Regions from separate parts of the Homo sapiens genome. Here region 2 is reported to be linked to region 1. The links are microRNA targets in miRTarBase. Many come from high-throughput screens and were not tested one by one. Region 1 holds a microRNA gene; the other region holds the end of a gene's coding sequence.
What was found. The annotated mature microRNA hsa-miR-4707-5p reads GCCCCGGCGCGGGCGGGUUCUGG and lies in region 1 at 2,056-2,078, opposite strand. An mRNA with a match to its seed (bases 2 to 7 or 8) in the 3' UTR can be bound and repressed. Matches are read on the target gene's strand: a 7mer-m8 pairs with bases 2 to 8, a 7mer-A1 pairs with bases 2 to 7 and ends in A, and an 8mer does both.

Region 2: miRTarBase lists UACA as a target of hsa-miR-4707-5p. Seed matches in the 3' UTR shown: 7mer-m8 at 2,331-2,337.

What each region holds. Positions count from the first base shown.
Region 1 is chr14:22,954,943-22,959,338 of GRCh38, forward strand. It overlaps MIR4707 (microRNA 4707), which reads right to left and starts at 2,087; the gene lies at 2,008-2,087. HAUS4 (HAUS augmin like complex subunit 4) reads right to left here and starts at 2,148. Exons shown (of 10, transcript NM_001166269.2): 1 at 1,974-2,148; 2 at 158-234. The coding sequence starts at 212. RefSeq lists enhancers at 1,840-1,969, 2,352-2,931, 2,932-3,510 and a silencer at 3,310-3,670.
Region 2 is chr15:70,653,190-70,657,585 of GRCh38, forward strand. It overlaps UACA (uveal autoantigen with coiled-coil domains and ankyrin repeats), which reads right to left. Exons shown (of 19, transcript NM_018003.4): 19 at 1,365-3,938. The coding sequence ends at 3,867. Among named protein-coding and RNA genes, the nearest start is that of SALRNA2, 20 kb to the left of the region's middle.

The sequences.
Region 1 (4,396 bases):
TCTCGATCTCCTGACCTCGTGATCCACCCACCTCAGCCTCCCAAAGTGCTGGGATTACAGGTGTGAGCCAATAAATGCTTTTTACTAGAAAAGGCAAGAACCTGGATAAGACCTCTCTGGATAAATCATCAAACCTTTTGCAAGTGGCTACTCTTACCTTGTTGAAGTATTTCCATCCCTTCTCCAGGTGAGCAGAAATCCCCGGATGCCATTTGATTTTCTTGGGATTCTAATCTGTGGAACCAAGAAGTGAAAGAAAACAAAAAGATGAATAAACAGCTGGCTGCTCCAAGGACACTACCTTATGTTCAAATTTCTGCTGTCCACAAGCTGGAAAGGAACCTCAAGGATGACTTTTACAGAGGGCCTATACCACACATCCTGGGTCCCAAGCTCTTACACAAGCTTTATGGACAAACAGATTTACAAGTGCCAAAACATGTCACATTCTAAGCACACATGTGTTTCCACTTGCTCCAAGCTGTCCAAAAGGAGCATCCTAAAAAGAGAACTTTCCAATTCACTGAGTCTAAACAAGAGGATTCTCCACCACCACCACCATTATGCCAAAGTTAAAACTGAGCTGCAGCTTCCCAGTTATGAGTGAACTGGGGGAAAAGGGAAAAAAATCAAAGTCTACTTTTTCCCCCCAAATAACTCAGCTATCAAATTCCATAATAGTTTTTTTGTGCTTCTTTTTTTGTCTAAGATCTGTTGGTAGTTTTTTTTTTTTTTATCATTAACTCTAGAATCATCCTTCAGGAATGACAAATCATTCCACACTTGAACAACTGGTTTTCACATAACAGCCTAAGAAAAGAGCACCTGGAGGAAACAGCGTGACAAGAAGACTGACAGTGAGGTCAGTGGCAAAAGAGTAATGCAAAGGTGTAATGTGGCTACAACGAGAACGTGAGCTGTGGGTGTTTTGCCAGAACATGGAGTGCGCTGAAAGGAATGACACCAACACAGGGGCAGTAAAGATGGGCACAGTTTGACCTCAGGAGACAAAAATTTTCCCTTGACATTACTTTTCATGTTTTTGCTCTGCCCCTCCTCTCTGCAAGGTATCAAACTCCAAAGGGCAACTGAGCCTCCCAAAGCTGAACAGGCATTGAAGGTTATTATGATTTAACGCTTCATGTTTATAGAACATTTGGTTTACTCGATCGTTTTATGAGTAACATCAAAGTAACTACTCATTTGTTTTCTAACATGGTCTAGAGGGGGACGCAGCTGAGGAGGCAGAATGCTGGGACTTAATTTGCAGCTCGGCCGGCCGTTGCTTCTGAGAACTTAAGGAAAATGCTTTTTTCTGTGCCAAACTTTTCCCACCTGCAAAACTGAGATAACGATTCCTGCCTTGGATGAGACATTAAGAATTAATAACACAATCGACTTGTCAACAAAAGCCACTACTTAGTTAAGTTCAGTGTTTTAACAATTCTGTTTATCGTTGATCTATGACTGCAAATAAAAAGTTTTGCAGGCAAATTTCGCACTTGGAAATGAAGACCAACCCAAATTCCAAAAAGCTAGCTGTTCGTCCCCCCCTAGGGTAAGTGTCCCCTTGCGTTTTTTAGGGTGCCTTTCTTTACCCTTCTTAAAGGTTACAGGGCGTGAACGGCAATCAGGCTCGATTCTCCACCCTCTGCACTCAGACGTGTTAAAACGCTGCTACAGGGACCCAAGCATTTAAATGTTCTGACTCAGGCGTCTTTTAAATTCTTAGAGCTGTCTTTACACGCTGCACTGAACGTTAAATTGATTTTACAGGTTATTTTCACAAGATATGACCCTTACAGGGCCCGAGATGAATCAAAATGCAGAACGGGCTCTCCGGCGCCTACTTCCCTTCTGTCTGGGCGGCCAAGGATTCCCAAGAGCGACGACGGTCTCCGGCCACTGGCCGGAATGACTCTCCCAGAGCTCCTCTTCCCCGAAGCTCCGCCCGCCGACCCTCTAAAGCAAACCTGCACACCCTGGGGCAGCTGAAGCTCTCAAGGCGGTGCCGAGAACCTCGGCTGGGGCGGGCTGGCCAGCAGCGTCTACACCCCAGAACCCGCCCGCGCCGGGGCTCCGGAACCTCTCGTTCGGGCCGGGCGCAGGGGCTGGGGGAAGCGAGGCCCGGAAAGACCAAGCTGAAAGGCCCGGGAAGGGGAAGGAGCCGAAAGTGCACTAGAGGCCGCGACGAAGGAGGTGGAGGCGGGGCCACACTCGAGGCGGGAACGGCAGGCCCCGCCCCTCGACGGGTGCGCGCTGGGTTCCCAACGCCCTGGGTTCGCATGCTCGGGTGGTGGAACCCGGACTGGGAAACAGGATGGTCTCGGAAAGGCTTTTTTGCCCCTTCTCATTAGTGCCTCCCCAGTGAAGGGCAGATGCTGAGAAAATGGTGGTAATTGCTAACATTTATTGAGGGCCTACGATGAGTCAGGCACTACGCCAAGCATTTTGCTTGCCTTGCCTCGTTTTTTTTTTGAGACGGAGTCTCGCTCTGTCGCCCAGGCTGGGGTGCAGTGGCGCAATATCGGCTCGCTGCAAGCTCCGCCTCCCGGGTTCAAGCAATTCTCTGCCTCAGCCTCACGAGTAGCTGGGATTACAGGTGCCCGCCACCACGCCCGGCTAATTGTTGTATTTTTAGTAGAGACGGGGTTTCACCGTGTTAGCCAGGATGATCTGGATCTCCTGACCTCGTGATCCACCCGCCTCGGCCTCCCAAAGTGCTGGGATTACAGGCGTGAGCTACCGCCCTCGGCCAGGCCTCGTTTAGTTCTTAAAGCGTCCTGTGAGAAAGTCACCATTATACTCATTTTACAGAGGGGGAGAACTGAGGCACAAAGGGTTAAGTTCGAGGTCGCCATTTGGGGGGTCTAAACCTGTCCCAATAGCTCTCGGAAGGAACCTTCCCAGACCTGCCACCCAAGCCGCGTCCTGCGAGTCTCCTCACTAAGGCCTGGCTCTGAGGCGCTGCCGCCCAGCCCAGCCCAGCCCAGCCCAGCCCATGCCGGGCACCATACAGTGCTTCCTCAGGGTCACCTTCCTCTCGAATTCCCACCACAGACTCCCTATTAGCGCGCATTCCTCATTCGCCTGTTTTGTTTGTTTGTTTGTTTGTTTTCTTGGGGGTACGGAGTTTCGCACTTGTTGCCCAGGCTGGAGCGCAGTGGCACGATCTCGGCTCACCGCAACCTCCACCTCCCAGGTTCAAGCGATTCTCCTGCCCTAGCCTCCTGAGTAGCTGGGATTACCCGCACGAGCCACCACGCCTGGCTAATTTTTATATTTTTAGTAGAGACAGAGTTTCACAATATTGGCCAGGATGGTCTCGCACTCCTGACCTCAAGCAATCTGCCCGGCCAAATATCTTTCACCTGTCTTAATCTTTTTTTTTTTTTTTTTCCAGACGGAGTCTTGCTCTGTTGCCAGGCTGGAGTGCAGTGGCGCGATCTCTGCAACCTTCACCTCCCGGGTTCAAGCGATTCTCCTGCCTCAGCCTCCTGAGTAGCTGGGACTACAGGCGGGCGCCACCACGCCCAGGTAATTTTTTTTGTATTTTTAGTAGAGACGGGGTTTCACCACGTTGGCCAGGATGGTCTCAGTCTCCTGACCTCGTGATCCGCCCGCCTCGGCCTCCCAAAGTGCTGGGATTACAGGCATGAGCCACCGCGCCCGGCCCACCTGTCTTAACCTTAAACCCAACCCTCACTCCCACCCACACCTTCGGTGAATTATTTCAAAAATATAAATTTAAAAAAATAAAGAGCTGGGCATGGTGGCTCACGCCTGTAATCCCAGCACTTTGGGAGGCTGAGGCGGGCGGATCACGTGAAGTCAGGAGTTTGAGACCAGGCTGGCCAACCTGGTGAGACCCCCGTCTCTACTAAAAATACAAAAAATTAGCTCCAGAGGCTGAGGCAGGAGAATCGCTTGAACCCAGGAGGCGGAGGTTGCAGTGACCTGAGATCGTGCCACTGCACTCCAGCCTGGGCAACAGAGTGAGACTCGGTCTCGAAAAAAATTAAAAATAAATAAAAATTAAAAATAAAGAAAATGTTTAGGCGGGGTGCAGTGGCTCATGCCTGACCCAGCACTTTGGGAGGCCGAGGCAGGAGGATCACTTGAGCCCAGGAGTTCGAGACCAGCCTGGGCCACATGGCGAGACGATCCCCATCTCTACAAAAAAAAAATACAAAAAGAAAATATGCAATACTAAGTAAACTGTGCCAAGTATATCACATCTTTTACATTAGATAAGGTGATAGCCTGGAGTGATAGGAAAGGAATCTCCGTTAGGTGTGCTGAGAGATGGGGAGTTTCGCCTTTTCCTTCAGTACCAGCTACAGAATTCTATTAATATGCATAGAGGAATGGTGTGGTCCAGTGAAGAAATTTTATA
Region 2 (4,396 bases), not on the chromosome of region 1:
AATTTGATGCCAAATATCAATTATAAGGGGCATTGTTTTTATTGATGTCTCTTCCATTATTTTACTGAATGGAATATATATACATATAAATTAGACTGAAATATATATATATATATGAACTGGAGAAGCAACCCTCACCAGTCTTGCTCTTTTTCATTTACATATGACATTTTTGTAACCTTCTCTTTTTGGTTGAATTAATTCATCATCAATGTTTGTTCATGCAGGCATAAATAATGAAAATGCCTCTAATATATAAGTGATGTCACATGCCCAATTACACTGAACACAAGCACCCTCACTGCCCAGGGAGTCTTGTTGGAATGCCATCGCTGATACAGCTTGATCTTTAAAAAAAAAAAAAAAAAAAAAAAAATCTGTACATTCATTACTCACTTGAGCCCAAAGGTCAATATATTCAGTAATAATCAGAAACCATGCTAAGAAGCAGGTTAATATTTACCTGGAGAGGCTGGTCTAAAGAGTCCTGTTTCAAATAGCTAAGATCAAAACACGGGAAAGAACTGAATTTCCAGCAACAGTCTCAGGTTCAGTTTCCAGTTTAGCGGGGAACAACACTGAATGAAATGACAGTTGAAATGTCTATACTAATTTTCATTTCGTATTTTGTGCACAATCTATTTTATGGTGCAAATTCTGCCTTTACTTCTCCAGTGCTTTTTATCCTCCCTCTGAACTTATTCATAAAACTTAGGGGCCAAGGGTAAGATCTAGGTCAGCCACATCTTTCATGTTCATCACAGGCATTCTCTTTCAACCCGTATTTTGGTGCCAGAGGAGCTACCATTACTTTGGTGCACAGAACCAACAAGAAAAAAGATCGCAAGGTTGCAGAATCCAGTGATGAAAACAGAGGCAATAAGAAGTAACTGTCTTCTACCATGGTGAAGCAGATGTCAAAAGAAGCTTGTAACCACTGCTAGGGTCTGGCACTCCTGCAAGCAGGCACTGATGTATCTAGTCACCATGAACACCAAAAATTAACTAGAAACTCTTCCCTTTTTTACTTTGAAACGAGTCGGTCAAAGACATGAACATTCAGGTAGGGTAACAAGCACATGTGTGAGAATAGTTTTTAGGTCCTTCCTTGTCAGAGGAAAGCTGATAACACTGGAGAAAAAAAATGCTCATGTTCTAAAGCTACAAGATTTTTAAAGCAGCAATGAGCCAATGCATTTATAAGAAGAGTAGAAAATTGTAAACTATAAAATTTGGTTAGGGTCAAGAGAAAAGGTTCAACTAAAAAGCCATAAAAAAGACAAAGCTAAATTCATCTGGAATTCTAGAACAATGCTGATACAGTTAAGTGATTATAGTCACCATAATATTAAAGATTTAAGATGTTCAATGCATGAATATTTGATTTTATTTCAAAAGACAATTATTTATAACACTGACCCTCTATCAAAAAGAATATGCTTTTCTGATGGGGAAGTGACAAAAAAAAAAAACTACACAGAACAAGAGTAATAAAGTTCTCAAGTAAGGATTGCACTCCAATAGGAATTGAGTGATTCTCTCAGAGAGCACTCATTACATCTTAGACAACGTCACTCTTCTTTCCTCTTGGCCATATGTTCAGGTCTCATAGTCTTTCTGAACACAGAATGGCAGTGGCCAGCATTGTCCATTATCTATGTTCCGCTTGTTTACTAATTAAAAAGCTTTGGTCTTCAGTGTTGTAAACGCAATTTCTGCCTTCGATATCAAAAGGTGAGTGAATGAGACAAGATTAGTTGAAGGAAGTACTTGATATTTTACTCCAGATAGCTGAATGAAAATGGGTATTCTCCCTTGTACTTTGGAGTCCATCGTTTCCTACTCCCAATGCTCTCACAGACAGTAAATAAAATAGTTTAACTCGCAAATCTTTTACAAGGATGTTCAAAACAATATTCTAGAGAAAACTTTATTGATGGTTGAAAACAAAATAAAATACACATAAGGTTCCCTTCCCATCTCTAATATGGAAAATAAAACACTTAATATGAATACTCAGTTTTAAACTTTGCTCTAAGTTTTATTTTATTTTATTTTGAGATGGAGTCTTGCTATTGCCCAAGCTGGAGTGCAGTGGCGAGATCTTGGCTCACTGCAACCTCCGCCTCCCAGGTTCAAGCGATTCTCCTGTCTCAGCCTCCCGAGTACCTGGGACTACAGGCACCTGCCACCATGCAGGGCTAATTTTTGTATTTTTAGTAGAGATGGGGCTTCACCATATTGGTAAGGCTGGTCTCGAACTTCTGACCTCAGGTGATCTACCTCCCTCAGCCTCCCAAAGTGCTGGGATTACAGGCATGAGCCACCACCCCCGGCAACTTTTTTAATTTATATTTTATTTTTTATTGAAATAGGTGGCCCAAAACTTGTGAAACAGAACTCATGCTGAAGGACGACATTAATCATAATAATTAAAGAGACAGATATTGCTTATGTAAACCGTATAAAGAATTAAAAACAAATCCAATTCTGACTTTCAATGTTGTTTCAACACCGAAAAAATATGATGGCTTATTCTTTGGTATGAGAAGTCATTTTGATGGTATTTTTACCCTATTAAACAAAAATGGGATTTAAAAATCTGGTTCGGGATGTTCAAAGATAATTGCTAAGGCAAATTTTGCAATTTGAGAAAACCTAACTGTAATGATCCATTTATTCAGTTATTTGTTAATACTCAAATTAGTAATTTTCACTCTGAATGGTAAATAAAATGTTAATAAAAAATAACAAGACATATAAACTTTCCCTAATGAGATGCAGTTAATAAAAACGGTTGTTTACTTCAGAGTATTTACTATAAACATGTCCACTTATGTTATTTTATTGCTATCTATATACTCTTTCAGTTTACTGTATTACTGTACTTTTCTCTAAAACTTTAAAAATCTGTTATCTAAAATCAATTCTCTAATGCTAATTTTGCAGGAAAACTGTATTTCACATTATTAATCTCATTAATATAACTTTCCTATAAATAAGCATGAAACATTTGGAGGATGCATATATAATGAGTGCTTGGTTACTATAGTAGCGAATGTCAAACTAATTGCTAAAAAAAGTCTAAAGGTTTTCACACTTTGAAAAATCTAGTATATCATCTATCATTATTCTCCAATATTGTGGCAAGAATAGTCACCGCAAGTAAAAATTAAGATACTGTTGTAGAGATTAAGGCAATTTTATTATAAATTCCTGATATATTCCACCCCTGCCTGTTCTTAATCTAAATGTAATTTAGCACTGCAAACCATTTATGAAAATAAATTTATTTTAAAAGGCATAAAAGTTATTAGTGTAAAAAGAAAAAATATCTATACCTACAAAAAAGGCCAAAGACACTAATGAAGTTACCTCAGTAAAGATACTGTAACATGTAACTTGGCCAGCCAAGTTACAACACATTCCTCACAACTGTATTATGTCTCAAGGTTCTGAGGATCTGAAAGGTCTTTTGATCCACCTAAAAGTGGCCACCAACCAAATTAATTTCTCTGAAAGACATCTTTAAGCAATTATTTCAGCCTAACCTCGCTTCATATGGACTCACTCAGATGGCTCATGTTTTATTAGGGACTTGAAGGTTTAAAAATATGTAGTCAATCCAGGGCAAAGTTATGTTGTTTGCCTATTTGTAAAATTAACACATACAGAAAATAAGATTCAAACTGATATTGAAAAAGACTAACATATTCATCTAATTTTAAAAAAAAACCTACCAATAGAACAAAATATATTTTATTTTAATTATACCAGCACAGTAAGGCCCAGAAAGACCATGGAGTTGCACAAAGAATGTTCAGCACCAGCAAGATAAAACAGATACTGGCAGTCAGTGCTAACGGCTAGCACACAAGCCCCTGCCGCATTTGTATGATCTGGAGCAGAGCCTCCTGAACATCTTCATCCATGTGACCCTTCGGAGAAAGAAGAAAGAGGAGCATTATTTTATGTCATCTTTGTTTACATAAGAATTCTAAAGATAAAGCTTTTACAGAGCATAACTAGTCATTGATTCATCAAATGCTAAATCCTCATCATTGTGATTTCTAAAGGAATTACTGGAAAAGGGAGTACAGCCCTATCATGAAAATAAGATCAATTAATAAGGAGTGCACGGCCGGGCGTGGTGGCTCACGCCTGCAATCCCAGCACTTTGGGAGGCTGAGGTGGGTGGATCATTTGAGGTCAGGAGTTCGAGACCAGCCTGGCCAACATGGCGAAACCCCATCTCTGGTAAAAATATAAAAATTAGACGGGTGTAATCCCAGCTACTCGGGAGGCTGAGACAGGAGAATCGCTGGAACCTGGGAGGCAGAGGTTGCAGCGAACCAAGATTGTGGCACTGCACTCCAGCCTGGGTGACATGGCGAGA